Linked DNA regions of Homo sapiens: region 2 is linked to region 1. Evidence: fine-mapped expression QTL. Tissue or cell type: whole blood. Region 1 holds a variant in brackets; the other region holds the start of a gene. Each region is shown on its reference strand, or each on the opposite one. Region 1 has its middle 33 kb from the start of NEK6. Region 2 holds the start of TPPP3 (tubulin polymerization promoting protein family member 3).

Region 1 (15,984 bases):
CAAGGGATTCTCCCACCTCAGCCTCCCAAGTAGCTAAGACTACAAACATGAGCCACCACACCCAGCGAATTTTTTTACTTTTTGTAGAGACAGGGTCTCGCTGTGTTGCCCAGGCTGGTTTTGAATTCCTGGCTTTAAGCAATCCTCCTGCCTCAGCCTCCCAAAGTGTCAGGATTACAGGCAGAGCCACTGCACCCAGGCTTTCATTTTTCTTGTTGGTAATTTGTGTCTTTTTTTTTTTCTTTGAGATGGAGTCTTGCTCTGTCGCCCAGGCTGGAGTGCAGTGGCACTGTCTCGGCTCACTGCAAACTCCACCTCCTGGGTTCAAGCAATTCTCCTGCCTCAGCCTCCCGAGTAGCTGGGACTTCAGGCACACGCCACCACATCTGGCTAATTTTTTGTATTTTTAGTAGAGACGGGGTTTCACTACATTAGACAGGATGGTCTCCATCTCCTCCCCTCGTGATCCTCCCACCTCGGCCTCCCAAAGTGCTGGGATTACAGGCATGAGCCACTGCACCTGGCCCGTGACTTTCTCTTTTCTACTGATTGAAGATGAAGTTTATCAATGTTGTTGATGTTTTCAAAGAGGCAGCTTGTGGTTTCATTTATTTTCTCTCTTGTTTTTCTGTTTTCTAGTCATTGATTTCTACTCTTATCTTATTATTTCTTTCTTTCTACCTGCTTTGGGTTTAATTTGCTCTTCTTTATCTAGTTCCTAAAGGTGGAAGCTTAGCAAATGTATTTATTTTGGGACTTTCTTCCTTTTGAATAAAGCCATTTAATGTTATAACTTTCCCTTTATTGTATTGCTTTATCTGTATCACATAGGCTTAGATATGTTACATTTTCATTGTTATTCAGCTCAAAATATTTTCTAGTTTTCTTTGTGATTTCTTTCTATATATATATATATATATATATATATATATATATATATATATATATACTTTTTTTTTTTTGAGACTGAGTCTTGATCTGTCAATCAGGCTGGAATGCATTGGCACGATCTTGGCTCACTGCAACCTCCGCTTCCTGGGTTCAAGCAATTCTTGTGCCTCAGCCTCCCCAGTAGCTGGGATTACAGGCATGTGCCATCACACCTGGCTAATTTTTGTATTTTTTGTAGAGACAGGGTTTCACCAGGTGGGCCAGGCTGATCTCGAACTCCTGACATTAAGCGATCTGCCTGCCTCGGCCTCCCAAAGTGCTGGGATTACAGGCATGAGCCACCGCACCTGGCTTTCTTTCTATATATTCTTTGTTGATGTATACAGGCATACTAAAAGTTTTTTAAAATCCACAGGTGAAAAGGATGCATAACAACTTCTAGATGGGTCTTATTGCTGGGAGTGAAGGGTAGATGGAAATGGGATAAGAAAAGCGGTAGATATTAACAATGCTCACCACCATGTCAGTTCTCTTCTGAGCACATGAGAGGATTATACTTCACTTCCCCTTCGAAGCTGGACATGGACACATGACTTGCTTTAGCCAATGAAATGTGAGGAGAACTGACACATGCCGCTTCCAAATGGAAACATCTAAGAGCCAGCACCTGAGTCTTCTTGCTCCCTTCCTTACCTGGTGAATCTTGAAGCCTTTTGCTGAGATCACAGCATCATAAATAGTGGAGCATCCCTCAGACTGGGTTCCTAAGAGACTACAATGAACATAGCCCAATGTAGTCAACCCTCACTGGATCGAGAATGCGATAGAAGCAGACCTTTGTTGTTTAAAGCAACTGAAATTTGGGGTTTGTTTGTTACTACAGCATAACCTAGCCTTTCCTGGCTAACATGGGGACCTTTGATTATATTTGTAAGTTTTTTGTTTGTTTGTTTGTTTGTTTGTTTTTTGAGACAGAGTCTCGCTCTGTTGCCCACGCTGGAGTGCAGTGGCGTGATCTTGGCTCACTGCAACCTCTGCCTCCTGGTTCAAGCAATTCTCCTGCCTCAGCCTCTTGAGTAGCTAGGATTACAGGCACATGCCACCACACCCAGCTAATTTTTGCCTTTTTAGTAGAGACGGGATTTTGCCATGTTGGTCAGGCTGGTCTCGAACTCCTGACCTCTTGATTTGCCCACCTCGGCCTCCCAAAGTGCCGTGGTATGAGCCACCGCGCCCAGCCAGTTTTTATTTTTTTACGAGCCTAAAGTTTCATTTTTTAACAGGGGTAGCGGGTACATGAGTATTTGTCATATAATTTTCTACACCTCCCGTATGTTTTAAGTAACTGTTTAAAAAAATTTATTTGTATATTTTTTGAAGACAGAATCTCTCTCTGTCACCCAGGCTGGAGTGCCATGACCTGATCACCACTCACTGCAACCTCCGCCTCCCAGGATCAAGCGATTATGGTGCCTTAGCCTCCCAAATAGCTGGGATTACAGGTGCACACCACCATGCCTGGCTAATTTTTGTATTTTTCATAAAGATAGGGTTTTGCAATGTTGGCCAGGCTGGTCTCAAACTCTTGGCCTTAAGTGATCCTCTTACCTCGGCCTACCAAAGTGCTGGGATTACAGACGTGAGCCACTGAGCCTGGTCTGTTTTAAGTAACGTTTAAAGGAAAAACAACATTAGAGGAGAGGGAGAAGAGAAGAAGGAGGAGAAGGCACCTGGGGAGGTGGGTCCTTTTTTCTATTCCCCAAGTCGTTTCTCCATCTATCCTCTGGGTTTGGGAAGTCAGTGGGGAAAGGTTTGACTGTTTCTCCAGCCAGATAATCATCTATGAGCAGTGGCCCCTCACCCTCACTCTGCTTGTCACCATCTGGTACATTACATATTTAGTGTATGGTTATTGTCTCTCTCCCCTTGAGAAGAGGGACTTTATTTTATAACCCCAATGCCTAGAACAATGCCTGGCACACAGAAGTCACTCAACACCTGCTTTTTTTTTTTTTTTTCTTTTTTTTTGAGATGGAGTCTCGCTCTGTCCAGGCTGGAGTGCAGTGGCCCAATCTAGGCTCACTGCAACCTCCACCTCCCAGGTTCAAGCAATTCTCTGCCTCAGCCTTCTGAGTAGCTGGGATTACAGGCGCCCGCCACCACGCGTGGCTAATTTTTATATTTTTAGTAGAGTTGGGGTTTCACCATCTTGGCCAGGCTTGTCTTGAATGCCTGACCTTGTGATCCACCCACCTCGGCCTCCCAAAGTGCTGGGATTACACGCATGAGCCACCATGACCGGCCAATACCTGCTTATTAAATGAGCACGTGCAAAAGATCGCCTCCCTCACCCATGTCTGCCTAGGGAGGACAGTGACCACGTTCTGTCCCTATTCCATGTTCCTTCTCACTTGCCTTTCCCCCAGAGTGAACACCCAGTGGAACTGATGAAAGTGTAAGCAGCTCTTTACTCAAAGGTCCAGATATTTGGCTAGGCATGGTGGCTCATGCCTGTAATCCAGCACTTTGGGAGGCCGAGGTGGGTGGATCACCTGAGGTCAGAAGTTAGACCAGCCTGGCCAACATGGTGAAACCTCGTCTCTACTAAAAATACAAAAATTAGTTGGGTGTGGTGGTGGGCCCCTTTAATCCCAGCTACTTGGGAGGCTGAGGCAGGAGAATCGCTTGAACCCAGCAGGGGGCAGAGGTTGCAGTGAGCCAAGATCATGCCATTGCACTCCAGCCTGGATGACAGAGCAGATTCATCTACCAAAAAAAAAAGTCCAGATATTTGTTCCAACACCATGTTTCTGTGTTTTGTGTGTGCATATGCATGTGTGAGTCTGTCCGTCTGGGGCTGGGATGAGGGGACTAGGGGCTGTGCCCCTCATGCAGCCATTTCCTTCTACTCTATTCCCTGCCCAGGTAGGAGTCTGGTTAAGTGCACCCCGAGAAGCATGGAGAGACCCCAACTCCCCATCGGGGCCACCCTTCAGCCTCCGGGAGGGGCCTGGAACTCGGCTTTCTCCAGGAGATTTGGGGAACATGTTACCGGGGTCCTTCAGCGGCCTCTCATCCACTTCTTGGCTGCAGAAATTCCCTGGCCACCTGGGCACGGAGACACTCTGGCTCCACCAGCCCACGCAGAAGCCTGAACTCATGTAATTAGACATAATGACACATGGCGGGAGCTTCCAGAATCTCACAATCTAATGACACACCCACCTCCCAACCCACCTCAGGGGCCAGCAGAGCTCCTAATTAGGTCTGGCGCCAGCAGGTGGGAGATCCAAGGGTTGGGGGAGCAAGGAGAGAATCCTGGCCTTGGGGTTTGTCAACCTGTGTGCCAAGTCCAGTTTGATTACTTTTTGACTATGAGGCGCTGGGCAAGTCAATTCACTTCTTCAAGCCTCCATTTTCTCATCTGTAAAATGGGGTTTTGTATTTACACCACAAAGTGCTGTTGTGAGGAGTGTGAGTTCCCTCCTGCTGGGAGGCTGTCAGTGGGTGGGTCTGGGGGAGACTGGCCTGCCATGCCCAAGGCCAGGGCCTGTGTCCTGGGGTGGGACCTCTTTCAGGTGTAGGGGAAGCTGCCACACCTTCAAAGGCCGATTGGACAAAAGGCAGTTCTCCAAAACTCATTGAAGGACCACTGCCTCATATTACCGAATTGACTGGTTTTTCAAAAACTTGTTTAAGAAATATTCTTTTTGGCTGGCATGGTGGCTCACTCCTGTAATCCCAGCACTTTGGGAGGCCGAGGAGGGTGATTCACCTGAGGTCAGGAGTTCGAGATCAGCTTGGCCAACATGGCGAACAAAACCCCATCTCTATGGGTGTGGTGGCACACACCTCTAATCCCAGCTACTCAGGAGGCTGAGGCAGGAGAATCACTTGAACCCGGGAGGCGGAGGTTGCAGTGAGCCGAGACTGCGCCATTGCACTCCAGCCTGGGTGACAAGAGTGAAACTGTGTCTCAAAAAAAAAAAAAAGAAAAATTTTAAAATTATGTTTAATGTACATTCTTCCAATGGCTATATTCCATTTTAAGGACTATTTAATTTGTCCAAAGTTCATAATACATTTGCTCTTCTAGTGCTCCTCCTCCTCTTCTTCTTCTTCTTCTTCTTCTTCTTCTTCTTCTTCTTCTTCTTCTTCTCCTTCTCCTTCTCCTCCTCCTCCTCCTCCTCCTCCTTCTTCTTTTAGATGGAGTCTCGCTCTGTCACCAGACTGGAGTGCAGTGGCACGATCTCAGCTCACTGCAACCTCTGCCTCCTGGGTTCAAGTGATTCTCCTGCCTTAGCTTCCTGAGTAGCTGGAACTACGGGCATGTGCCACCACATCCAGCTAATTTTTGTATTTTTAGTAGAGACAGGGTTTTACCATGTTAGCCAGGATAGTCTCAATCTCTTGACCTCGGGATCCGCCCACCTCAGGCTCCCAAAGTGCTGGGATTATAGGCATGAGCCACTGTACCCAGTCTATTCTTCTTAAATAATATCCTATGAATATGTTTTTCACAGTATCACATGGGAACTTTAGCTTTTAGACTGATTGTTTTTAAAAACCTCTGAAAAAAAGTAATTTTCTGTCTTATCAGAACTTTAGCATCTGAAGGATCCTTTGAAGATTTTGTTAAATGGTCAACTCAACCAATTATCCAAATTTACTGCTTATCTCAAAATGTATTTCTCTTTTTTTTTTTGAGACTGAGTCTTGTTCTGCCCCACCGGCTGGGGTGCAGTGGCATGATCTCGGCTCACTGCAACGTCTGCCTCCTGGGCTCAAGTGATTCTCCTGCCTCAGCCTCCTGAGTAGCTGGGACTATAGGAGTGTGCCCCCACGCACGGCTAATTTTTGTATTTTTGGTAGATATGGGGTTTCACCGTGTTGGCCAGGCTGGTCTCGAACTCCTGACCGCAAGTGATCCACCCACCTCGGCCCCCCAAAGTGCTGGGATTACAGGCATGAGCCACTGTGCCTGGCCTAAACATGTATTTCTTTTAATTATATTTTTATATTTTGATTTCACTTTCAAAAAATTTTACATGCATTTTGTTCTGCAAGACTTAACAATGAAAAACAGCTGTCTCCTGTCTAATCCATCTTTGCTCCCAGTTCCCAACCATCAGAGGTAACTGCTTTTTAACAAGAAACAAGTTTCTTTTTTATTTGCCTTTATGCTTCCACTGTTATCACATGTCTATACCGTTATTTCTGGACTTTCAGTTTTATGTATAATCTACTCTCTTCTTACTTTGGAAGATTAGAATTTGCTTCCCATACCACGCTGCCCCTACTTCCCCTGGTACCATCTTCCTTATATGATCATCTCATCTCATAATTTTTGGTTAGATAAATATTGGGGGTTTATTTTGTGGCCATGTGAACAGTGTTGATAGCCCAGCAATGTAGAGTACTGTGATTGCATTTATTCTCTTGTGCAGCTTTCTGTTTTTCCTAGAATTGTTCATTTTCTGTCTATTTATTTATTTAGAGATAGGCTCAAGCTATATTGCCCAGGCTGAACTGGAACTCCCGGGCTCCAGTGCTAAGCTAATATCCTGTTCTTCACTCCATTTACATCCCTAGTTTTAACCTGGTTCCATCGATGTTTCTTACCTGAAATAATAATTATGATCATATTTGACAAAGGTGGTTTTCCTTCTTTCTGTATGATTTGACATTCTACTGTCAGGAAAAGCTTTCTCTTCTGTCCGGTTACTTATTCGTTTTTTTGTTTATAGCAGTTGGAGTCAGGGGTTTCTATTTTATTCAGTGGGTTATCATTCATTGCTATCATTATTAATTTTGATTTTTCAATTACACCAGATTTGGTGTGGCCCCATCCAGCTGGCCCCTGTGTCCCTTTGACATGTCCACACTATGCTTTGAATGCTTAGTGACTTTTTGCCACAACAAGGTGTTCCAGGTTCATCTTGTTCTTCCTCTCTCCCAGCCAGGACTCAGCCTTCCTCCAAATGGCATTTTGAAAACAAGATCTTGGCACTGGGTATGTTCATTGCTACCAGAGCATTGCTGCTCCCATACCTTCTTGGTGAACAGAGCTGAAAATACACACACACACACACACATCAAATATGCATATATGTATACACATATGCATGCAGGTGCATATACATGTATATATATAGACACACCTTTCTGTCTATATTCTCTCTCTCTCCACATAAACACAGATTCTCACCATGTGTTCTCACTGAGAGCTCCAACTCCAGCCCAACACTATGGGCTTCTTCAGTTTCCTCCTTTTTTTTTTTTTCTGAGACGGATTCTTACTCTGTCACCCAGGCTGGAGTGCAGTGGTGTGATCTCGACTTACTGTAACCTCTGCCTCCTGGGTTCAAGTGATTCTCCTGCCTCAGCCTCCTGAGTATCTGGGATTATAGGCACACGCCACCACGCATGGCTAATTTTTGTATTTTTTAGTAGAGATCAGGTTTCACCACGCTGGACAGGCTGGTCTTGAACTCCTGACGTCAAGTGATCCGCCCGCCTCGGCTTCCCAAAGTGCTTGGATTACAGGTGTGAGCCATTGCACCTGGCTTTTTTTTTGTTGTTGTTGTTTTGTTTTTTTTGAGACAGAGTCTCACTCTTGTTGCCTAGGCTGGAGTACAGTGTCACAATCTCGGCTCACTGCAACCTCTGCCTCCCGGGTTCAAGCAATTCTTCTTCCTCAGCCTCCTGTGTAGCTGGGACTACAGGTGCACACCACCATGTCTGGCTAATTTTTGTATTTTTTAGTAGAGACGGTGTTTCACCATGTTGGCCAGGCTGGTCTTGAACTCCTGACCTCAGGTGGTCCGCCTGCCTCCGCCTCCCAAAGTGCTGAGATTACTCGCGTGAGCCACCGCACCCAGCTGGTTTCCTCCTTTCTGCATCTGTGCCTCCCTGCCTCATCAAGGAGAAACCTGAATCCTCTTGTCCATGCTAAGCTATACCTCTGCTCTGCCCCGGTGCATACCCATCTTTGATTGCAGCAGGCTGCCGCCCAGGTCCAGCCTCACAAGGGCCACTGTGACTGTCATCCTCGAGCCTCATGATTTTGACTGGATGCACTGAGAAAGGTAGGCAGGCAGGAGGAAGAAAGGAAAGAAGGGAGAGATACAGAAAGGCAGCGAAGGGGAGAGGGAAAAGACAGGCAGGCATGGGATGGGTTTTTAAAGCTTTAGAAGATTTCTTGGATTTTCAGGAATGTTCAGTTTGTCTCTACCCCATGTCCCTGATGCTGCCACTGGAGGGGAACAGAATAGAGATCTAAGCCCAGTCTGGGCTGCAGGTCCCAGAGGTGAGAGGGATCTGAAGGCCCCAGATCCTGACCCCCCGTAGCCATGATGGCCTTGCTAATTCATTTCATGCACACAGTGGGAACTTTTACAAATTAAAACAAAATGAAAAAAAGCTCACTGGGGTGGCTCATGCCTGTAGTCCTAGCACTTCAGGAGGCCAAGGTGAGCAGATCGCTTGAGACCAGGGGTTTGAGACCAGCCTGGGCAACATGGCGAAACCCCATCTCTACAAAACATACAAAAATTAGCCGGGTGTGGTGGTGCATGCCTGTGGTCCCGGCTACCTGGGAGACTGAGGCAGGAGGATGGGTGGAGTCCGGGAAGTTGAGGCTGCAGTGAGTTGAGATTGCACCACTGCATTCCAGCCTGGGTGACAAGAGCAAGGCCCTGTCTCAAAAATAAATAAATAAATAAAATGTTTTAAGTCGGGATAGATTTGTTAAGCTCAATGATCTGGTGATATGGCACAGTGACCCTTTGACTAACTGACTTAGCCACGGTAGGTGTGGAAAGGGAAAGTGGTCTCTACTCACGGGCTCTGGGGTCCCTTCCTTTTGCACCCACGGTAGCTCTGCTCATTTGCATTAGTACTGTCTGGCTTTGGATTATATTTCTTTTGATAAAGGGTTTGAAAGAAAACTGAGCTGGGCGCGGTAGCTCACACCTGTAATCCCAGCACTTTGAGGGGCCGAGGCGGGCAGATCACCTGAGGTCAGGAGTTTGAGACCAGACCGGCTAACATGGTGAAACCCTGCCTCTACTAAAAATATGAAAAAATTAGCTGGGTGTGGTGGCACGTGCCTATAATCCCAGCTACTCAGGAAGCTGAGGCAGGAGAATCGCTTGAACCCAGGAGGTAGAGGTTGCAGTGAGCTAAGATCACGCCACTGCACTCGAGCCTGGGCCACAGAGTGAGACTCCATCACAAAAAAAAAGAAAAGAAAAGAAAGGAAACTGAGCCTGAGTTCCAGTCCTCCTGGGCCTCCTTGCTGGGTGACCCTGGGCAAGCCTTTCCTTCCCTGAGCTTCAGTTTCCTATCTGGGAAAGGACAGGTTGGATGCTGAGTTCTGTGCATCTCAGTGTCAGGTGTGTTGCACACATAGCTGGGGACCAGCCACCAGTGCCCAGGGAGGGCCACCAGTTCCCCAGGCAGGGGAGGGAGGAACCACTTTCCCCACCCTCTTCCAGAGAAACAGGTCACTGGCTGGGCTTGGGCCTGCAGCC[A/G]AGGGGAACTCAGAGACAATAAGCCCAAGTCACCCAGCTGGCAGGTTGTGCAATTTCCACCAGCGCCTGCAAACAAGATGTTGGCCCCTGAACTTTGGACTCTGGGCAGCCTTCTCCCCACCCCTCAGACCTAAACCACCCAGTTTAGGGGACAAGGCTGGGGGTGGGCAGGGTGCTCACTTAGTTCCAAGGACAGCCAGGTGGCTCTGGGCGCCTTGAAGAGAGAGGGTCCCACCAAGGAGGGTGTCAGAGCACCTGGCTGTGGGGAGTCAGTGGAGGAGGCTGGCCATTGGGGAACTGTCAGAGTGTGTGTGTGTGTATGTGTGTGTGTGTCTGTGTCTGCATGTGGACAGGCGGCACCTGTGAGCTGAGTTGCCTCTGCCTATGCATGGAGCCATGGTTACTCTCAGGGGAGTGACATCAGCAGATTGTCGGATGCTGGATGCTGCTTTGTGACTGCAGGGTGGTCCATGCACGAGTCTGTGAGGGTATGATGTGTGTCCTCGTGTGTGAGTCATCCTGGCTATTGATAGGCGTGTGTGTTATCTGTTTGCATGCATGTATGTAATGGGGCCCATGGCAGAGTGCAGATAGGTGAGACTGCACACACGTGTGATTCTGTGGGGGCACGTGCAGGTGTGTGGCTCTGATTGTGTGCCGATGAGTGTGCATGTGGGTGTAAATACACGCATGTGTGCACAATGGTGGGTGGGCATGTTTACCATCAAGGATACGTGTGTGTGTGTGCATGCCTGTGTGAGCCCCATTTGCTGGGCCTGTGGTCTCTGTGGTGGTACTATGGTTTGTAAACACGCATGACCTCTTTACTACACATGAGTGCAGGTAACATGGATGTCCACGCAAGTGCCAGTGTAGGACCCGTGTCCCTGGAGCTTTGGCCCAGCTTGTCACACGCTTCACCCCCTGTGCCCCTACCAACCTGTCAATTACTTTCATGCTTCCAGCAAGTCTCTATTCTGAACCTCAGTTTTCCCATCTGAACTGCATAGGAGGAGGTTGGACTGGATGAGCCCTCAGGCTCCTCCTACCTGTGCAGCGACTTGGATACCGCGTCACAAAGAACATGCAAACATGAGGAAAGTGAGAGCCCAGAACGCCTAGAATTTACCTCAGTCCCTGGCTGAGGGACAGGAAGCTTTGAAGTGACAGATGAAGCTAGGGACCCAGATCCTGGGATAGGGCAGGCCCAGCAAGGGCCTGAGGGACCCACTGTCTTCCGTCTGGTGAGCCACCACCATGGGCTGGAGGGAGGGGACTGACTGATGGGACCTCTGCCGGGGAACCTGGAAGGGCAGATGGGAGTGGGGAGGCCAAGGTGGGAGGACATCTGTGAGCAGCCTCCAAAAGGAATCCCAGAGACACTAGGTGGGAGGCAGTACCACCCCTCTACTCACAGAAAGGAGTCTGTCCCCACTCCTTTGTTCCTTAAGGAGTGGAACCCTGGGGCAGCTGTCTTGACACAGAACGAGCCTTCATTCCCCTTAGGGCTGGTTCCAATATTTGAGGCTCCAGCCTGATTTTCAACAGATGCTGAAGGGGAAGGAATGGATACCCTGCTGAATGCCTCCCCTGTACTAGGCACTTTGCTAGTGTGCCAGGAAGGGCTTCTTTGCCCCCTTCACTACTTTCTTCTCTCCCCTGGTTCTCGACAGCTCCACCCACCCTTTGTGCAATAAGTCTTCAGGAAGGTGAAGTAGAGAGACAGCAGAGTAGCGCAATGCTACTCCACCTATGTCACAAGAGACAGTCAGTGGTAGCATGAGAAAGCTTTGCTGTCTTGTAGTAAGTTTACTGCAAAGAGCTAGAAGGAGCTAGAGCCTCTTCCATTAGTCCCGCCTGTGACATGCCCTCAGGGGTCTGATGCTGCCCCTCTAGGATAAAAACTCTGTAAGTGGAGAAGAGAGAGACAATTCTTGGGCCAAAGATGCCCGCTGTAAAATTCAAGGCCAGTCAGAAAAACAGAAACCACTCTAGGTATTTCCAACAGAGGAAATTTAATATAGGGAATTGGTTACCTGGAAGAGGGAAGAGCTGAAAAGCCAAACAGCAAATGGTGAGGCAAGTGCTTGTTCCACAATGGCAAAAGGTGCTACCACTTAGGGGTGGAGAGACAAAAGGAAGAGGCAGTGATACTGCCCAGGAGTAACTTGAATCATCAGAGCCACCTGGAGACTTGGAACTGCAGATGACCGGGTGGTTCTAGAGCAGCCAAAGACACAGAAGAGAGCAGCCTGTGCTGGGGAAAGGCCACTCCCACTCCCTCCCTAAGCAGAGGGAGGGAGAAATACCCAGATTGTCCCCTCCTCCCATGCTCCAATCTCCTGCCAGTGCTTCCCCTTGGCCCAACCTAACAGGAAGCCAGTTGGCAAAGGAAACTGGGAAAAGCAGTTTGCAGGAGAGGGGCAAGCACACAGGACTGCCCAGCACACTTGCCCACGATGCACACTGCAGGGGCTGAGAACGTGTTGGGAAAAGCAAAGAAATACTTGGCAGTGTCCCCAGGACTCTGGGGATATGATTAACTGTTGATCAGAGTTTCATGGACTGAACACACATACGCTTCCAGGGAACACACTGAACACACATACGCTTCCAGTGTGACCTGCTCCGTGAGTGTGGCTTCAAATTGTCTCCACCACAGGCCAACAAATTTAGGACAAGCCTCCCTCCCCATGCTGCAGTGGAGGAAACGGAAGCTTTAGGAAGAGAAGTGCCTTCTACAAGCTCCACGGCTGGAAAATGGGCAAAGTCAGGACTCAAACCCTGGTGACTCCAGGGCCCCAGGCCTGGGAAAAAGGTGAGAAGTCAGGTGTCAGGTGTTACCCTTGGGAGCAGATGCTGGTTATTGATCTGAGTTGGAGGCCCTGGGTAAAATTCTGAGAAGGAGAGCGGCGTTGAGCTTGAGTGAGGCTGACTGGGGAGAGAGCTGTTGATGGTGAAATGGGAAGGGGGCATAGTGTAATGGTTAAGGGTGGGACTTAGGAGCCCAACAGTTTGGTTCAGATCAGCTCTGCCATTTACTAGTTGCGTGACTTGATCTCTCCATGCCTCAGTTTTCTCTTCTGTTAAATAGGAGTCATAGTGATCACAGTACTTGCTTCATAGAACTGTCATGAGAACTAGCGTGTTGCATAAGCGATTGCTAGGATCATTGTTGAGTCCTTACGCTGAGCCAGTACTCTACCAAACACTCTACCTACATTATCCTATTTCATTCTTAAAAACAAAATATCGGCCGGGCACTGTGGCTCACGCCTGTAATCCCAGCACTTTGGGAGGCTGAGGCAGGTGGATAACGAGGTCAGGAGATGGAGACCGTCCTGGCTAACACAGTGAAACCCCGTCTCTACTAAAAATACAAAAAATTAGCTGGGCGTGCTTGCAGGCGCCTGTAGTCCCAGTTACTTGGGAGGCTGAGGCAGGAAAATGGCCTGAACCCGGGAAGCGGAGCTTGCAGTGAGCCGAGATCGCGCCACTGCACTCCAGCCTGGAAGACAGAGTGAGATTCTGTCTCAAAAAAAAATATCGGCCAGGCGCGGTGGCTCACACCTGTAATCTCAGCACTTTGGGAGGCCAAAGTGGGCGGATCACCTGAGGTCAGAAGTTGGAGACCAGCCTGGCCAACATGGCAAAACCTCGTCTCTACTAAAAATACAAAAATTAGCCGGGTGTGGTAGCACATGCCTGTAATCCCAGCTACTAGGGAGGCTGAGGCAGGAGAATTGTTTGAACCCAGGGGGCGGAGGTTGCAGCAAATCGAGATCACGCCACTGCACTCCAGCCTGGGCGACAGAGGGAGATTCCATCTAAAAAATAAAAAAATAAATTAAAAAAGGTCCTTTTTATTCCCATTTTTACATGTGAAAATACTGAAGCTCTGAGACATAAAGCAACTAGGTTGAGGACGAGCATCAGTAGGAAGTAGAATATGACTGCAAAGTCCTATCCCTGGGCGGCTGCACCATTCCCTGTTTTGTTTCTCAGTCCTTCCATTGGAAGACAAGCCCCTGTATTAAATCCCTTCTGTTCAAAACCTAGGGCATTTCAGGCTTCCTGATGAGATGCTGCCTGATACAGTAGTTACTGTTTATTGTGGGTTTCCTGGGAACGGGCACTCTTCTATGCACTTTACATACAGTAATGTATCTAATCATGCCCTGCTCATCCTATGCATTAAGTGCTATGATCTCACTCGACAGCAGAGGAAGGAGAGGGGAAGCCACTTGCCTGGGATCCTGCAGCTCATGAGGGGCAGAGCTGGGGTTTGAGGACATGAGGTTCAAATCCAGAATCCACATCCTGACCCATGGCAGGAGACCACCCTACTTGCTGTTGGCCATCACTACTGCCAGGCAGCAGCCAGCCCACCAGAGCCTGGCCCTGGTGGCAACCAGTTAGCCTCTGTGACCTCCCCATCTGACTCCATCTTCCCCCTCTGCTGTGGACCTTGTCTAATTTCTACCCACTTCAGAGACTAGGACAAAGATGGCATCTCCAAGGCATTCTCTTCTCCAAGCTGAAGACCCCTGTGTCTGGGAGGGGCTGGGAGGTGAGGTGGGGCCTTCCTGGAGGATACTAAAAGGGCTCCTAACCCTGGTGTCTCTTCCCTCCCAGCCTGTCCCTCTTATGCCACTCATGGCATCAATCCGTCCAGAGGGACACTCCGATGACTCACCCACCACAGCACTTTCACTTCCTTCTTCTCCAGAGGAGGCGTCTGACCTGCTGCAGCTGCACTGAAGGGCCTCTTCTCAGGGGCTTCCAAGGCTATAGGGGGCGGCCAGGGGCCCTGCTGCAGCCTTGAGGTCCAGGCCTGGGGCCTAGAGTGCTGCCTCTGTAGGGAGCAGAGTGACCGGAGGGGCTTTGGGCCTCCTTGCTAGAGACTGGCTTCAGCTGAACCCTGTCCAAATTGTCAGTCACCCTCAACACCCATGCAGGGTTGGCACACAGGGAGATGGACCTTGAGTTTTTTTTTGAGACAGAGTCTCACTCTGTCGCCTAGGCTGCAGTGCAGTGCAGTGGTGCGATCACAGTTCACTGCAGTCTCCACTAACGGGGCTCAAGCAATTCTCCCACCTCAGCCTCTCGAGTAGCTGGGATGACAGGTGCATGCCACAACGCCCAGTTAATTTTTGTAGAGATGGGGTTTTACCATGTTGCCCAGGCTGGTCTTGAACTCCTGGGCCCAAGCGATCCGCCCACCTCAGCCTCCAAAAGTATTGGGATTACAAGGGTGAGCCACCATACCCAGCTGACCTGGAGTTTTAAAGCTGGAGTTGTATCTCTCATACTTCCTGATGGCATTGAAGGGACCCATATTCATTCATTCACTCATTCATTTACTCCTTTATTCCCTCATGTAACAAATCTGTCCTGGGCTTCTATATACCAAGCAGTCCCTAGGGTACCAAGAAACCAGGGCTCGCCCTCTGCCCATGAGGAGCTCATGGCCCATCTATGGGTGGGGGTTGTGGGAGTGGCGGGTAGCAGGGCGGATCCATAAATAGAAAACCCCGGTACAGTGAAAGCGGGCCTTGGAGAGGGCTGGGGAAGCCCAGGCAGTGCAGTGGTTGTGGTTAAGTCACAGGGCACCGCAGGGTGGACCTAGGATTTGTGAAGTCTGAAGCTTTTCAATTTTGGAAGCCCCATCTGTAGAAACAGAATACAAAATTAGATTCAAAAGCATTTATTTAGAAGGAGAAAACAAAACCCAAGACAGTATCAAGGGCTTGGAGATACTTCTGAGATCCCTTCACACAGTTTACCAGAAATGTTTACATGGAAATGCTTCCTCATTACAAGCTGGTTTCCCTCTCTCCCTAGAGTACTCTATAGCTCCCAGCTACTCCAGGGGTGCTGGGAAGGGCAAGGCTGAAAATGAAGCTTTGCTAGGGTCACAATGCAGCCTCCTTGGAGCAGGCAAGTTGCACAACACTGATCCCATCCCAGTCTCAGAGGATAGTGCATGGTTCAATGACCTAGCTGTGGAGTCAGACCTGGGTCACACTCCCCACTCAGCCATTTTCTGACTATGCCACCTTGGGGAAGTTGCTCATCTCTGAGCCTTGGTTCACTCGTCTGTAACATGAAGCTATTGATAGAACCACACATTGTGTTTTTGTAAACATTCAATGAGATCATCCATGCAGAGCAGTTCATAAACATGAAGCACTGGATGAACGCCACTGTCACAGTGAATGCCACTATTCATGATGAAGGTCTGTGGCTGTCTTGTCCTGCCTCTCTCTCTCTCTCTCTCTCTCTCTGTGTGTGTGTGTGTGTGTGTGTGTGTGTGTGTGTGTGTGTGTGGTGGGTGGTCAGGGAAGGCTTCCCAGAAGAGGTGACATTGGTGTTGGGCCCTAAAGGAAAATGTAGAGAAGGGCATTCCAGGCAAAGAGAATGGTGCATGAAGTGACTGGTGTCTTGAGGAAGGGAAGAAGCCCAGCCAGCCAGGAGCAACCTAGAGGGATTCTCTAGCCTCTGGGTGGCCATATTAGGGCTGGGCCTGAGCTTCCCAGGCCCTCCTGGTTGCAGCCCC
Region 2 (15,262 bases), not on the chromosome of region 1:
GTTGATATTGCCTCCTAAATAGACATTGAATTGGCTCCCGGTTTCTGCCACTGCCAACTGCCTCTCTTCCCTGGATGACCGCTGAGTTTCTAAACGGGTCCCACACACACGCTCTCACCTCGGCCAGCCCATCTGCATTCCTGCTCTTTCCAAAAACCAAATCTGATAATGTTGCGCCCCAGCTCCAAGATTTCTAATGGTTTCTTCCTGCCTTAAGTAATGAGGCTCAAGGCCGGGCGCGATGGTTCACACCTGTAATCCCAGCATATTGGGAGACCGACGCGGATGGATCACCTGAGGTCAGGAGTTCCAGACCAGCCTGGCCAACATGCGAAACTCCATCTCTACTAAAAATACAAAAATTAGCTGGGCATGGTGGCACACGCCTGCAATCCCAGTTACTTGGGAGGCTCAGGCTGGAGAATCGCTTGAACCCGGGTCGGGGGGCGGAGGCTGCAGTGAGCCGAGATAGCGCCATTGCACTCCAGCCTGGGCAACAGAGGGAGACCCTGTCTCAAAAAAAAAAAACAAAAAACAAAAGAAATGAGGCTCAACATGGCGTCAAGGCTCCGCATTCTGGACTCTGCCTCTCTCCCCCATTTCCTCTGATGTGATTTTCCCTGTCCTCTTCTGTTTCCACGGCACTGGTCTCTGCCCGGAAGCCCCTTGTCTCTCTCCCTGCTCCCAACACGCAGCTAAATTAGAGGCCGAGAACTAGCAGCCCATGGGCCAGTCCAGCCTGCAGATTTGTTTTTTTGAATTGAAGGATAGTTAACAAAGAAAATGCACAGATCTTAATGTTCCTTCTATAGGCATGTTTTTTAAATTATTTATTTCCTTAACATTTAAACATTGAGAGATCTCACATAAAAACCCAGACTTCTGGTTCCTTTTGAGAAGCCAGAAATTGGCCACACAGACCCTCATTCTTGCATTCTTGCAAGACAGCCGTGAGCTGGAGGCACACTTCAGCCAAACTGCTGGTTGGCACTCCACATGTTCCCCACAGCCACAGTCCCTAGCCAGGCCCCCTTTCCTCTTTGCCTGCCAGGTCCCTGGAATCCATTCCTCTCTGTCTCAGCTGAGACAATACTTCCTCAGGTAAGCCTTCTGGACCCCTTCAGACTAGATGAGGTCATTTGGTTATAAACTGGCATAGTCCCACGAACTTTCTTCATTGTAATTAACTCATTATTTGATTGATATCCATGTTTTTGGGCAGGAGTGGTGGCTCATGCCTATAATCCCTGCACTTTGGGAAGCCAAGGCAGGCAGATCACCTGAGATCAGGAGTTTGAGACTAGCCTTGGCCAACATGGCGAAACCTTGGCTCTACTAAAAATACAAAAATTAGCCAGGCGTGGTGGCGAACACCTGTAGTCCCAGCTACTCGGGAGGCTGAGGCAGGAGAATCACTTGAACCTGGGAGGCAGAGGTTGCAGTGAGCCAAGATCGTGCCATTGCACTCCAGCCTGGGCAACAGAGCGAGACTCCATCTCAAAAAAAAAAAAAAATTCCATGTTTTCCACCAGACTGCAGTCTCTTCAGTGCTAGGGACTCTTGCCCCTGCCGTATCCCTCAATGCCTGTCACAACAAAAGACCTCAGTAGACAGCTGAATGAATGACCCTGGGGGTGAGGCGGGAGAAGAGTTGGAGCAGGCAGGGAGTAAATGTTTGCCCTCATTCAGTGTCTGAAGAGTGGATGGCATGGTGAGCACAGTAGCTGGTGATAGCAGAGAGGTTTGGGAGGAGCCAGAGGGAAAGGGACCTTAGCACTGAGCAGAGGAGTGAATTTCAGTCAGAGAGCTGTTGAGACCCACTGTAGGGTTGCAAGCAGGGAGGGCTTTGGGTCTGAGCTTTTAAAAACTTACTCTGAGACCATGTGAAGCATAGACTCAAGGGAACTCAGACAGAAGGCGCAGAGTTGGGAGGCTATAGAGTGGCACAGGCAAGAGATGAAGACTTGGCCATAGGGATAGAAGGGGTAGTGATGGCCACAGGATTGTCTCTCTTAGCTATGCTTATGGCACATTAGGGCGGAGCCTGGTTTATGCAGATATGTAGAGAAATTTGGCTGCTGGGAGGAGGAGGAAGGGAGGAAAAGAGATTGGACAGCTGATGAATGAAGGATGGCAGATGGATGATGGGTAGAGCATGAATGATGGAGGGATGATGTCTGCCTGGCTAGCAAGAGGACCAGTGGAATTTTGGGCTGAAGTGGGTGTGATCAAGGGAGGGAGAGTGGATGGCTGCCTGGGTGGAATCTATGGGTGAATTTTTAAACATCAGACTTTGTAGCAAATTGTCAGCAAACTTGTCTCCTGCATTTGGCCCAGTCATTGAGCAGTTAGATCCTGGAAGAGCTGTTTCAGCTTCAGAGACTAGCCATGCTGTCCCTGGCCAGGCCCTGAACATGGCAGGCCATTCCAGACACTCAGCCCAGGACTCCAGGTGCCTAGATTCTTGGTAGGGGAGGTAGCAAGTGTCCGAATCCGTGTCTGCAAGGGGTTCTCCATCTGGCCCAGCTACTGAAAAGGGGGGTGGCTGCATCCCTTTTGGAGGTGACTTCCTATGAAAGCAAGATAAGGAAGCTGGGACTTAAACTTCAGGTTCTTGGACCTTAGGTGGGGTTGATCTCTTTCAGTCTCACATCACCATTTGGAATCTGAAACCAGAAACCAGCCTGAGGTCAGACCAGCCAGGGCCTGCACCAGGCCTGGAGCAGTGAGGCCAGGACCCTGCGATTGGGCACCTAGGTGGCGACAGCAGGCACTGCTGGCTGGCTGTGGACTCCTTTCCTAGATGGCCTCTCCCTCTTTCCATTTGGGGCATAGGGGTTACCTGGAGAGGTCTGATGAGGAGGCTTTGGGGGACTGGAGGTAGGAGGTGGCAGAGGCAGAGAATCTGCACAAAGCGGGCTGGCATGGCAGTGGGGAGTTCTCTGGCTGCAAGGAACGGGGCAGGACTCCCAGCCGGCAGAGTGGAGTGAGTCTTTAACCTGCTGGGCCAGTGCATGGGCGCCATCTTTGCTGGCCACCTTGTGGTGCACCTGACCGCCGTCTCCATCGATCCAGCAGATGCCAACGTGCGGGACAAGAGCTATGCGGGGCCCCTGCCCATCTTCAACCGAAGCCAGCACGCACATGTCATTGAAGACCTGCACTGCAACTTGTGCAACGTGGATGTGTGAGTGTGTGTGGGTGCTTGTGGCTGCCGAGTGTGCTGTGGGGTGTATGGTGGAGAGGGGGTGCCAGGGCTTCACAGACATCCCTGATGCCTCAGAACCCTCATGTTTTATGCAGTCAAGAACCTTGATGGCGTGACAGAGTATTGGGTTACTGAGAAGGTGAGGAGAAGGTGATTGGAAACAGAAGATCAGTAGTATTCCAGCAGTTAAAGGAGGAAACATTTGGCCCTGCCCAAACATTTCTAATGAGCGGCTCTGCCAGTGACACCCTCACATCTCTCGCCAGTATTCCCATATAGGGGTGGGCAGGGGTGTTGATGCCTGACACTCACTGTGTGCTGAGCTCTTCCTGCAGCCACCCCGCATGGCTTTCTCACTTCATGGAGGAGGAAGAGCCCAGCGCTTAGAAAGGCTGATAGGCCAGACACAGCCACTGATAGCGGAGCCAGATTCACATCTGGCCGGCCAGGCCCCTAAGCAGATACTGCTGCCCTGGGGTCTACCCAGGAGGAGTCTGAGGCCCAGGGGGGCCATTTGGCTTGCTCAGGTCCCTCTGCTAACATGGAGGAGTCACTACGTGCTGCGCCCCGCCACCTTGGCTGGTCCCAGCTACCTCTCTAGGGGCCCCTCTCCACCCTTCTGGAGCCCCCCAGTCTCCAGGTCTCGGGTGGGGGATCAGGGATGGGGATATGGCCCAAGGCCAGCCCCCACCAGGAAGCCTGTTGAAGGGGTCTGTCTGCAGACTGAGCAAGCCCCTAGCCTTAAGGCGCCAAGGACTTGGACATGAGGCCATCCTGCCATTCACTGGGCACCCGCCAGCACACTTTCCGAGCAGCTGCTCCAGCAGCTGCTGCCCATTGCAGGGCTCTGCCCTGTTCTGGGGGAGGGGTTGTGCCTTTGGGCCTTCCCCGGTGCCTCCCTGGGCTGGGAGACTTCCCCTGAGCCCCTGTGGTGAGCACCTGCATGCTCACGCGGATGGCAGCCTGCACTTCTTTTGCCTCTTTTCTCTTAGTCCACACAGACTGAAGTTTCTGGAAAAATGCCAGTACCATTCCTATAGAATGGCAGGGAAACAGGGGCCCACTGCCGGAGGTGTCGGGAAGGGCAGTGCAGGCCCTGGGCCCAAGCCTTGCTGTCTGCAGCTCCCTGGGCCCACACCTGCATCTTCTGGCTTCTCTCGGGGTCTTTGCTTGGAAAGGACGCCCATTTTCTGTTTCATGGCGCATCAGCTAGGCGCACAATCCCAGAGCAGGAGGGGTGCACCTCCTTACCCCTCCTGCGGCCTCTGGGGTCCCCCAGCTCTTCGGGAGCGCTGCCTCCTCCAGGGGACCCACCCCGCAGCGCCTGCAGAGGGCGCGCGCGCTCCTCGTCGCCTCGCTCGGGGCTGTCTCAGGCCTGGCGCTTGGTCCCTCCACAGACCCCACTCAACCACCCCGACCGGCCGGGCCGCAGAGCGGGGAATGAGCCGGCCAATCGCGCTGTGCCCCCTCTCCCTGCAGGAGCGCTCGCTCCAAGCACTGCAGCGCCTGCAACAAGTGCGTGTGCGGTTTCGACCACCACTGCAAGTGGCTCAACAACTGTGTGGGCGAGCGGAACTACCGGTGAGGACAGCCCGGCCGCACGCGGGCCTGGGGATGCACTGTCTGAGGGTGGGAGCCACAGACCTTGCAGCTCGCATGGCAGGCGGGCGGGGATGGGGATGCTTCGAGGACCTGTGCCCGTTTTATGCGGGGGTGCTGCCCAGAGAGAGTGATGCTCCTGGGTGCCGGCTGAGATGGCCAAGGGTGGGCCTGGAATCTTCCACCAAGCTGGCCCAGAGAAATGTGGGCTGCCTGATGGGGTGGCCACCCATCTTCAGTTTTGCCGTATGCCTTTGGCTTCTGAGGAGTTGGGGCTGTGGGGTCACCCTCAGCCCTCTGAGCCCATAGCAATGACCCTACAGCCCCAACTCCTATGGGCCTTCTGAGGCTGGAGCTCCGGGGAGCTGACAGCGACCCATGGCTGGGCCCAGGCTCTTTCTACACAGTGTTGCATCCGCTTTACTGGGCGTCCTGCTCCTGGTGCTGGTGGCCACATATGTCTTCGTGGAGTTCTTTGTCAACCCCATGCGTCTGCGCACCAACCGACACTTTGAAGGTCAGTTTAGGCTCCGGGCCTATTCTCACCCCCAACCCTGGTCACCCGTCACGTCCCCGGCTGAGCACACACTGCCTGTGCCTTGCAGTCCTGAAGAATCACACGGATGTGTGGTTCGTGTTCCTGCCTGCCGCCCCCGTGGAGACCCAGGCCCCTGCCATCCTGGCCCTGGCCGCCCTGCTCATCCTTCTGGGCCTCCTGTCCACAGCCCTCCTGGGGCACCTGCTCTGCTTCCACATTTATCTCAGTAAGTGCCTCCTGCACCTGCCTTCTGGAACGCAGGGGTCCTCAGATTGCAGGAAGGTGCCCAGTTGGACGGTGGACCCTGAAACCATGCCCCTGCCTAGTATGGGCTCACTATGGTGGCCAGGTCTCACCTGATGGCTTCGTGTATTTGGGGACACTGGTTTCAGCCTGGGGCTGGTTGTCCTCCCTCCTGTTCTGAGCTCCAGAGTCCCCCTTCCACCGCACTGAGCCCTCTCCTCCCCCCACCAGTGTGGCACAAGCTCACCACCTATGAGTACATCGTGCAGCACCGCCCACCACAGGAGGCCAAGGGGGTTCACAGGGAGCTCGAGTCATGTCCTCCCAAGATGCGGCCCATTCAGGTATAGAGGATGAAGGGTGGGAGGGGGCCTGGGTGTGGGGGGTGTTGGGCTGTGCAGCGAGCAGCCAGTGAGGAGACAGGGCAAGGGAGGCAAGCCTGGAACAGCCGCTGGGGGCAGCAGGGACCGGGCTTGTGCTGAGCGTGTGCCTGCTCGCCCAAGCGTGGGCACAGCCAGAGGGAGCCCTGTGTTTCCCGGACCCCACGTACACACCTGCCCAGGCGCCAAGCATGCGCGGGAGGGCATGGGATGTGGGAGCCTGGAAGCAAGCAGGTTGGGGCTGCAGCAGGAGAGAGAGGGATGGACCAGCGACGGGGTCAGTGATGGGTGGCCAGGATGGAGCCATCACTTCTCCTCATCCATGACCTTGAGCGCTTATACCCATTACCCTAATTTATGCTTAGAACAGCCTCTTCTGCAGATGTGCCTACTGAGGCCTAGAAGGTTAACCACAAGCTGGGTCTGGGAAGAGTTAAGGTCTCTACGCTCTGGCCGGCCTGGCCAGGCCAGTGGCTGACCAGCCTATCCCCATTCCCACGCCCCATGGCTTCCTGAGGTCAGCCGCTGGGGTGGGGGTGATCCAGTCGTCAAAGGAGCCCCTAGGGACTAGGAAGGCGGGGCCCGGGCAGGCTTTGCTGGGGGAAGGCTGAGCCCTGGATCCCGAGGCCTCATGGCAACTGGACACAAACAGAGGCTGGTGGGTGGGTTGGGGAGGGCCTAGGACCCCACCTCTTCTGTTCTTGTCACCAGGGCTGGACACTACTTGTGGGCCAGGCTGCCAGGACTGGGCAGGCCTGGGCCTGGGGCATGCTGGCTGTGGGTGGCGACTCCACTGTTACACCACCGTATACCTGCCCCAGTGCTGGGCTCTGATGGTGGCAGCTGTGCTGGGGAGAGGGTACTGTTTCCAGCCCCACATCAAGAGGAGACGGAGGCCCAGAGAAGTAGGCAGGAGACTTTCTCAAGCCTCATAGGCAGCACCCACTGAAGCAGGGCGGGCTCTTTGGCCCTGCGCTGCCAAGGCTTTGGGGCCAAATGTGGCCACAGCGAAGACATTTAATTTCTGTTCTGTCCATCTGCAGTGACTTGAGGGAGGCAAACCCGGGGGACAGGAGTGGTGTTCTTGTCCTCTTTTACAAAGCAGAGAGCTGAGGCTGAGGGCCCAGTACCATTCAGGAATGTACACGGTTTTGAAGGTCTCTGAGACAGTATCCTCTGGACAGCCATGGCGAGAGAGGACAGGGCTCTGAGTGGGGACTCACTGGGGACGCTTTCAGACTTCTTGAGCTGGCTAGGGCCTGGCGCCTTTCCCATCCAGGCCCCTCAGCTTCTGAGACCTCCTCTACTGCTGGCCCCTCCTCTGCTCCCCCCTCTGGAGCCCAGGGCCCCCCAGTGGGCTTTGCCCCTCTGCTGGCCCTAGAGGGTCACTGAGTCCACACTGGGGCAGAAAAGAGGTGTGGGGGAGAGTGATCTTGAGGTTTCCAGTCCCTGTGACTGGCCTCTGACCCCTGACCCCGCGCTCCTCGGCCCAGGCTGGCGCCCCCACACCCCTCTCCAGAGCAGCAGCCAGGGCAGAGGTTGGGCGGGGCCGCTGGCTGGGCTCCTCCCCCAGATCTGTCAGGGCCCTGCAGGCAGCCACCCACCCCCACCCCAGCAGGAATGCGGGAGGGGCCCCTCTCTGGAGCCGTTGCCCCCAAACATAGGCTTGTTTTAGAGACGGCCTTGCTGTTACAGTGTCCTCTCTGCATTAGTCAGGACGCCTCCGTCTCCATGGAAACGGCTGCTGAACTGGCGACAGCTGTCCGGGTGCTCCCGGCAACCCCTCCCGGCTCCCACCCCGCCCGGGACCCGCCCCCATCTCGCACCACGCCCTTCCCGGGCCTGCTTTCCCCAGGCTTTTGTTTCCTCACCTGGAGTCCTTCTGGGCAAAGCTGGGGCGAGTCCTGCGGGCGGGGGTGCAGGACTAGGCCACTCCTGCAACCCCCTGGCCTCAAGGCCCCTTTGCTCTCAGGGGTCGCGTCTGCACCCTCAGGGTTGCTGTGAAGATCAGGGCTTGCCCATAAGCCTGGTGCTCAGTGGGGCTGCGGCTCTGTTTGTTCCACCACCTGCTACCTTCCCTTTTGGTGTAGTGGCAGGGAGACCACCGCATGTGCATTTACGCAGCCCCTTCTCGGCAGCCTGGATCGTGGCTGGTCCTCTGTGAGGGCGAGGGGTGTGCCCAGGACTCAGCTCTGCGGGAGCTGGTGGATGCACACTCAGGCCTGTTTCTCAGCCAGGGGAAAACAATTGGTTCAGAGGCTGGATCCCTGGGGACACCAGGAGCAGGTGCGGGCAGCTCTGAGCTTCCCACCACTCCCTGGCTGAGCCTCTCTAAACTGGGCCTATAGACCCATGGGGGCTGGGAGCCTTCCTGCAGGAGGCAGAGGCTGAATAGATGAGGTAAGGACCTGGGGATGGGGCAAGGGCCAGAAATGGGTGTTTTAAGCCTTACCCTACAGATGGGGTTTTCCCAGCATGGCTGGGAGCCTGGCATGAGGCCTGAGATATCCCACAGAGGCCAATGAGGGCAGGACTGCGTGGGCTTAGGGCTCAGCAGGCTCGGGAGCCACACCTGGCCTCCCAGCCTCCTTGACTTCCACCTTCCCCAGGAGATGGAGTTCTACATGCGGACCTTCAGACATATGCGCCCAGAGCCCCCTGGCCAGGCCGGGCCAGCAGCAGTGAATGCCAAGTGAGTGCAACCTGGGCATGTGCCACTGGGCATCTCCAGTTAGCATGGCAGGGCCATCGAGGCAGGAGAAGGGGGTAGGCTAAGGTCGGGGCATGGGTCAGGCCCTTCTCTGAGCTAACAGGAAGGGAAGCTTCTCTCAGCACCTCCAGTGGGGAGGGATTTGGGGAACAGGCCCCAGGCTTACCCTCCTGCTTCCCCCTCAGTCCCTCCCAGTTTCTTGCCACCCGTGGCCAAGCGGAACCTCCACCACCCTCTTCCCCAGACACTCTCGCCCTGCCTCCCCGGATCCGACCCCAGGTAGGAGGGACTGTGCTGGGCCTCCGGTCCAGGTGGAGTGGGATAGAAAGAAGCCTCTACCCTGGCGCTCGCCTCTGCTTCTTTTGGCGATGTGGGGCCCTCAGGCTCCCCCGTGTCTCTGCAGAAAAAGAGGAAGAGGCGCGTGTATAAAGTGCGAACGTCTGAGACCTCGGATCCGGCGTCGGGTGAGCGCCTCTCCCTGTCCGGGTCCTGCTCTGGGAACTCGAGGGAGGGGAAGGCAGAGCCACAAGCGAGCCGCAGCCACTGGGCTCATGTTCCCTTCCCTTGCGCAGGGCCTAGGGCCCCCAGCCGCCGCTCCAGCTCGTCGACGGATTCCGCGGACGCCAGCCCTGTGCACGCCGCTGGCCCTGCCGGCGCCTACCACTCGGCGTCGGCAGAGTCCGTGGACGAGATTCCAGTGGCGCAGACGCGCCTGGGCAGCGCCGCTCTGGCCGCCCCGCGGGGCCGGGGCCGACAGCCCACGCTGGCGCGGCAGGCGCGTGCGCCCGCCGTTTTCGTGAGCCCGAGCAGCGGCGAGCCCAGGGCGCCGGGCGGCCGGGAGGCTGGTCTGGCTTAGCTGGGCCGAGAGGCCGGAGGGCCGAGTTAGAGCGGCCGGCCTGACTCTCTATGCAACACCCCATCCTTGCCGCACCGAGTGCACTTTAGGGGCCCCTACGGCCGGCGGGATCGGCCTCCCTCCCCCACGACTCAGCAATACCCGCCCCACCGGCTGTGATGCTCCAATAAACTTTTTTATGCTTTTGCGGACGTCGCGCTTACTTTCTTAATGGCAGGGGCCACGGGCCATCCAGAAGCCCGACCCTGGCCAGTGGACCGGGGGCGGGGAGGAGGTCCCTGTATAGTAGGTAGCCACCCAGGCTGCCCTGTGGAGGTGCTCACGTGCGGCTCGTGGTTAGGAAAGGCCTTAGAAGGCGGCCTGGAGGAGGTTATTTTTCTTAAAGATGGGCTTTGCACTGGGAGGCCGAGAGAAAGCAGGCTTTGGGCTCCGAAAGCAGCAGTGGGCGCTGAGGCTGCGAGGCCGTGGGGAGGTGGCGGCGAAAGGAGGGGGCCGAGCCAGGAGGTCCCGCAGCTTTTCCCCGGCAGCAGGGCTGCCGTCGAATGCCAGCATCCTGGGGCTGGGCGAGCGCGATTCGCTCGTAGGGAGTCCCCTCCCTTCTTCCCCACTGCTCCAGGCTCTGAATCCTACCCAAGAGAGCACGGGAGTTGTGGCCTGGGGGTGCCATCCGTTCAGTGGATGGCAGTGCTCTTGAGTCAACCGTATACCCCTGTCACTGAGGGAGAGCTCCTTCCCGATTCCCCAAGCCCCACCAATGCCCCGCGCAGCTCCCCAGTGGCCTCTGGTTGACTCTCTGGGGAGCTGGATCTCTTCTGGAGATTGGGGCCGCTTAGAGCTTTAGGCACATCCCAGGATGGGAGGCTGTTTCCTCAGGGGGCCGTCCGAAGACGCCCCGAACTGCAGAGCGCTGGTCTCGCCGTCGCGAGGACCGCGGAGTTGCGGGGGAGGGGCGGGATGCGGCTCCCGGAGAGTCTCGGGGAGGGCGGGGCCTCGTGGGCGGGGCCGGCGTGACCTTGGTCACTCTCCCGCCGAGACAGCCTCGGGGGTGGGACTCGCCGTCTCTATGGAGACCGAGAAACAGGGGATAATACGGCGGAGCCGCCTGGGCTGCAGTCCCACCCGGGAGCCGGCAGGGAGCGGAGCTGCGGAGCCGCCTGGTCTCCCGCGTCCATCGGTCCATTCCTGCGTCGTTCTGTCCTTCCGAACGCACACTTCAGGAGCAGCCGCGAGGTAGAAGCCCATAGGAGACCCAGATGCCCGCCACCCCAATCAGTATCCTGCACGATGAGGGTTGGGGGGAGCAGCCTGGAAAGGGTCCCAACCTCCGGCGGTCCCAGCCGAGGAGCCAGCTGAGCGGCCCTGCCCTGGCCCCAAGCATTCCACCTCGCAGCCCCCACCTCCTGGTCCGGCTGATTGATGACTCCAGCTGTCCCAGTGGGAGCGGGACGGGTGGCTCCAGTTCACGGGTGTGGCCACTCCATCCATGGCCTGCAGACCCATGGGGCTGCGGCCTGCAACCCAGCGCCACCTGACCGCGCTGAGATGACCAAGAATCCATCTTTCCACGGACAGGAGTGAGCACTGCACGCAGGATCCGCCCAGTGCTTGGGCCAAGCACCCTGTGGCATCCAAGCTCCCCTGGACGTTACCCTTGGTGAACCAAGTGCGGGTCTTGGGGTCCCTGGTGGGAGGTTGCACCCAGGGAAAGGGAAGGGGAGTGCAGCGTGGACTGGGGTTATGGTCCCTGTAACGTAGGAACCACCGGTGCTCACAGTCCCAGAAACTGCCACTTAGGGATGGGAGTGTGGTCACTGGCGAGGAGTTTTTGGTGGAAGATGGGGCAGCCGGGCAGAGCCCAGGCCGTGGTCACTGGAAGCCCTAGTGTAAAAGGCAGAGCTAGAAGATGGTTGCTGAGACCGAGGGTGTGGTCAGGAGGTGGCAGTGGAGGAGGGGGATGTGGTGGGGAGGTCTCTACGCAGGGGATCTCCGCATAGTACCTGGGAGTCTTATAATGTTAGTGTGTGGATGTGGACTGGGGCCTTCAGTGCAGGCTGAGGGTGTGGCCAGAGGGCTGAGGGTGTGTGGACAAAGGGGTGCTGAGGGTCAGGGCGCCTTGATAAAGGGCTGCGGGTATTGGAGGGGGTGAGTGGCTGAGGCTATGGTCAGGGGTCTCAGGAAGGGATGCAGGTTTGTGGCCAGGGGCCTCAGCCCCAGGGCTGCGGGTGTGGGGATGGAGAAGGCTGCTGTGTAGGCTCAGGGTGTGGCCAGGGGTCTGCAGCGGAGGGCTGTGGGTGTGGGGGGCACTTTAGTGCTGGACTGTGGGTATTACTGGGGTTGGCGCAGGCTTGTTAGTATATATGTGGGGGCTGGTGGCCGAGGGCTGTGGCTGTGGGTGTGAAGATGGAGGATGGAGGGCTGAAGGTATGGCCAGGGGTACAAGGCCCAGGGGGTGGCAGGCCAGGGCTGAGTGCACAGGGTCGCTGGGAATGTGGGCTGGTGTGGCCAAGTTCAGGGCGTGGCCAGGGGAGGTCTGAGGTGTAGACATGATGAAGTGTGTTTCAGCCACAGCCCCACTTGCCAGCACGACTCTTGGGGTTCGTAACTCTACAGCCCCCACGCTACTAGCCCCCAACCTCCTGCTCCCCCAAAACTCCACAGTGGGAGGTTACAGCACCAGTCGGTGGCAAGGGGCCAGGAAGCCACGGTTATGCCCTAGGCGCAGGGAGTGCTGGCGTGCCCCACCCGTGGGCCCCAGCTTCCCAGCCCAGCCCAGCCCCTCAGCACTGGGAGCTTCTCCCTGAGCTGCCCTGACACCATCCTGCCCTTAGCAACATTCTCCAAGCAGCACCACCCTCCCTTAGCAACCGTCTCCAGGCTTCACAAACTGTGGCCAGGCCAGCCCCAAGCTCCCCTCATGTTTTTGTTTAACAGCAAATAGTAACAAGGCCTTGCTGGACCAGCTGCACCCCTGCCCAGGGCATGCACCCGTGCCCAGACTGGCTCTTGCTGGGTCCTCATGACCCTTACAGAGATGCTGTCCTCACTGAATGCCTGCCCGACCAGCAGCCTGGCCTGGCCCCAAGCCAGCTTGGCATGGAGCTTCCAGGGAGGGGGCCTGCTCTGCCACCCTCACTTCCACCCAAGCAAGGCCTTGTGCCAGGGCCAGACAAAGCCAGGGCCCCAGCTGCTGCCCTAACAGTCTTTCTGGACAGTGCCACTCTGTTCCCTGTGGGCATCATTATTTCATCTGCTGAACCCTGCTGAGAGCCAGGGCTGGCATTAGTGACAAGACCGTGCCTCCCGGGGCTCTTCCTTGGGGCTCTGTGGCCCAGGGCGACAGTGACGGGCCCCTCTCCCCAGGCAGCTCCAGCACCAACTCTGTAGCAGAACCTGCCCAGGTCTTGCAGGTTTGAGGTAGAGGCTGGGATGTTCTGGGCTTGGGGGAGGGGAAGGGCAGATTGGCTGGGAGATGACCCAGGTGGGTCTCTATAGGGTGGCATGGCAGCGAGCACAGACATGGCTGGGCTGGAGGAGAGCTTCCGCAAGTTTGCCATCCATGGTGACCCCAAGGCCAGTGGGCAAGAGATGAATGGCAAGAACTGGGCCAAGCTGTGCAAGGACTGCAAGGTGGCTGACGGAAAGTCCGTGACAGGGACCGATGTGGACATCGTCTTCTCCAAAGTCAAGTGAGCCCTAAGCAGCCCCTGCTTCTCATGTTCCCAGGAGGTGGGGAACTGGGGGGCTGGAACCAGGGAGGACATCAAGAAGGGGTCAGGGAAACACCATGATCACGAAGGTCGTTCTTCCAGGGCAAACCTTATATCTATTGCCCTCCAGAGTTGCTGACCCCTGCGACTTCCCCAAACGTGGGAAAGAAACGCAATTGCATAATTTGTGGTGGCAGCAAATGTGTTTGAGCTTTCCCCTGGGGGAGAAAAAAGAAAGGGGAACCCTCATGGTGCCCACATGCCTGTCAGGGGGAAGTCTGCTCGGGTCATCAACTATGAGGAGTTCAAGAAGGCCCTGGAAGAGCTGGCGACCAAGAGATTCAAGGGGAAGAGCAAGGAGGAGGCCTTCGATGCCATCTGCCAGCTGGTGGCAGGCAAAGAGCCAGCCAATGTGGGCGTCACTGTAAGTGCCCTGCTGGTCTCGGGTGGCCACGGAATGGGGTGTGGGGAATCGTGGCTGTGGGTGGGAAGGGCTGGGCTCCCTCATCAGGTGCCCCTGGGGAAACTCTGTCCAAACAGAAAGCAAAAACAGGGGGTGCTGTAGACCGGCTGACGGACACCAGCAGATACACGGGCTCCCACAAGGAGCGCTTCGATGAGAGCGGCAAGGGCAAGGGCATTGCGGGACGGCAGGACATCCTGGACGACAGTGGCTACGTGAGCGCCTACAAGAATGCAGGCACCTACGATGCCAAGGTGAAGAAGTGAGGCTTGGGAAGACCGCCCTGCCAAGTGCGGCTGCCCCTGCCAGAGGCTCAGGCCTGGGTCTAAGGGGCACGTGGAGCAAGAGATCCTGGTCCCCTCCCTGCTGGACCTGCCACCCAGAGCTTCCTGCCTAGTCCCACTGGGCTGGCCCACCAGGCCTCTGACCCAGGCTGCTCTGCGGCCCCTTCCTCCTCCTCTTCCTGCTCCAACTTCTGTCCACCTGGGGACAGTCTGTGCCTGTAGCCTCATGACCCCAACCCAGCCCCAGGCATGGCTAACCCCTGACTGCTTGCCTCATATTTAAGCTGCTGCTCTGGCCAAGTGCCTAATTTTAACCCAGACCTCAATAAAGACACCTTTTGTACCAATATGGCCTGGTTGACGATGATGGGGGAATGACATTCACACTCCAGTGACCCCCTCAGTGTCATCACCCCGCTGCATGCCACACACTGCTAATCACTCCCCTTCCCCTGGCAGCCTTGCCCAGAAAAAGGCACTCATGAGTCCCCTTCTGTTAGCACAGAGCCATTCTGTCTGAGGAGACTCCTGGGGAAGTCCAAAGCCTTTTAGCTGGGCCTGACGGGAGTCCTGACATCAAAGCTTGCCTTCCTGTGACCAGTGCCTTGGGTTTGGAGAGTTGGCCCCCTCTCCACTTTCACAGCAGTAGGAGGGATGAAACAGCCGACTCAGCCTGGGCCAAGCATTGGCAGAGGCCCCAGAGCCAGGCATCAGCTTTCAGTCTGCGAACAGGGGCTACCGAGGCAAGTCATTTTGGGTTCTGGCTCAGAATACAGAAAACGCAGGGCCAGGCAGAACCTTAGAGAGTAGCTCATCCAGGCCGGGCGCGGTGGCTCACGCCTGTAATCCCAGCACTTTGGGAGGCTGAGGCGGGTGGATCATGAGGTCAGGAGTTCAAGACCAGCCTGACCAACATAGTGATACCCCGTCTCGATTAAAAATACAAAAATTGGCTGGGCATGGTGTTGCGTGCCTGTAGTCCCTCCCAGCTACTCAGGAGACTGAGGCAGGAGAATCGCTTGAATCCAGGAGTTGGAGGTTGCTGTGAGCCGAGATCACGCCACTGCACTCCAGTGTGGGCAACAGACACTTTGTCTCAAAAAAAAAAAAAAAAAAAAAAAAAAAAAAAGAGAGTAGCTCATCTGACTCCGTAATTTTATAGCTGAGGAAACATCCAGAGAGGTGGAGGGGCTTCTGCAGACTAGAGGCCAGACCATGCCTCTTGCCTCCCAGGCCAGGCTCTTTCTAGCAAGCCCCAGCATTGACTTCCAAAA

Evidence for each region. PIP is the estimated chance that this variant, and not a neighbour inherited with it, causes the effect.
Region 2: TPPP3 starts here. The variant in region 1 is the best candidate, but not a certain one, in a credible set for the expression of TPPP3 in whole blood (TOPMed, PIP 0.58).

The regions. Positions count from the first base shown.
Region 1 is chr9:124,217,021-124,233,004 of GRCh38, reverse strand. No RefSeq gene overlaps it. Among named protein-coding and RNA genes, the nearest start is that of NEK6, 33 kb to the left of the region's middle. RefSeq lists enhancers at 13,896-14,255, 14,826-14,985, 15,895-15,974. The variant A/G (reference allele first, on the strand shown) is at 9,426.
Region 2 is chr16:67,388,882-67,404,143 of GRCh38, reverse strand. It overlaps TPPP3 (tubulin polymerization promoting protein family member 3), which reads left to right and starts at 10,646. Exons shown (of 4, transcript NM_015964.4): 1 at 10,646-10,764; 2 at 13,027-13,220; 3 at 13,512-13,665; 4 at 13,782-14,335. The coding sequence starts at 13,033. The coding sequence ends at 13,970. ZDHHC1 (zDHHC palmitoyltransferase 1) reads left to right here. Exons shown (of 12, transcript NM_001323627.2): 4 at 3,012-3,187; 5 at 4,688-4,789; 6 at 5,200-5,324; 7 at 5,413-5,571; 8 at 5,820-5,932; 9 at 8,578-8,660; 10 at 8,864-8,957; 11 at 9,082-9,142; 12 at 9,251-9,992. The coding sequence ends at 9,534. It also overlaps the pseudogene RNU1-123P.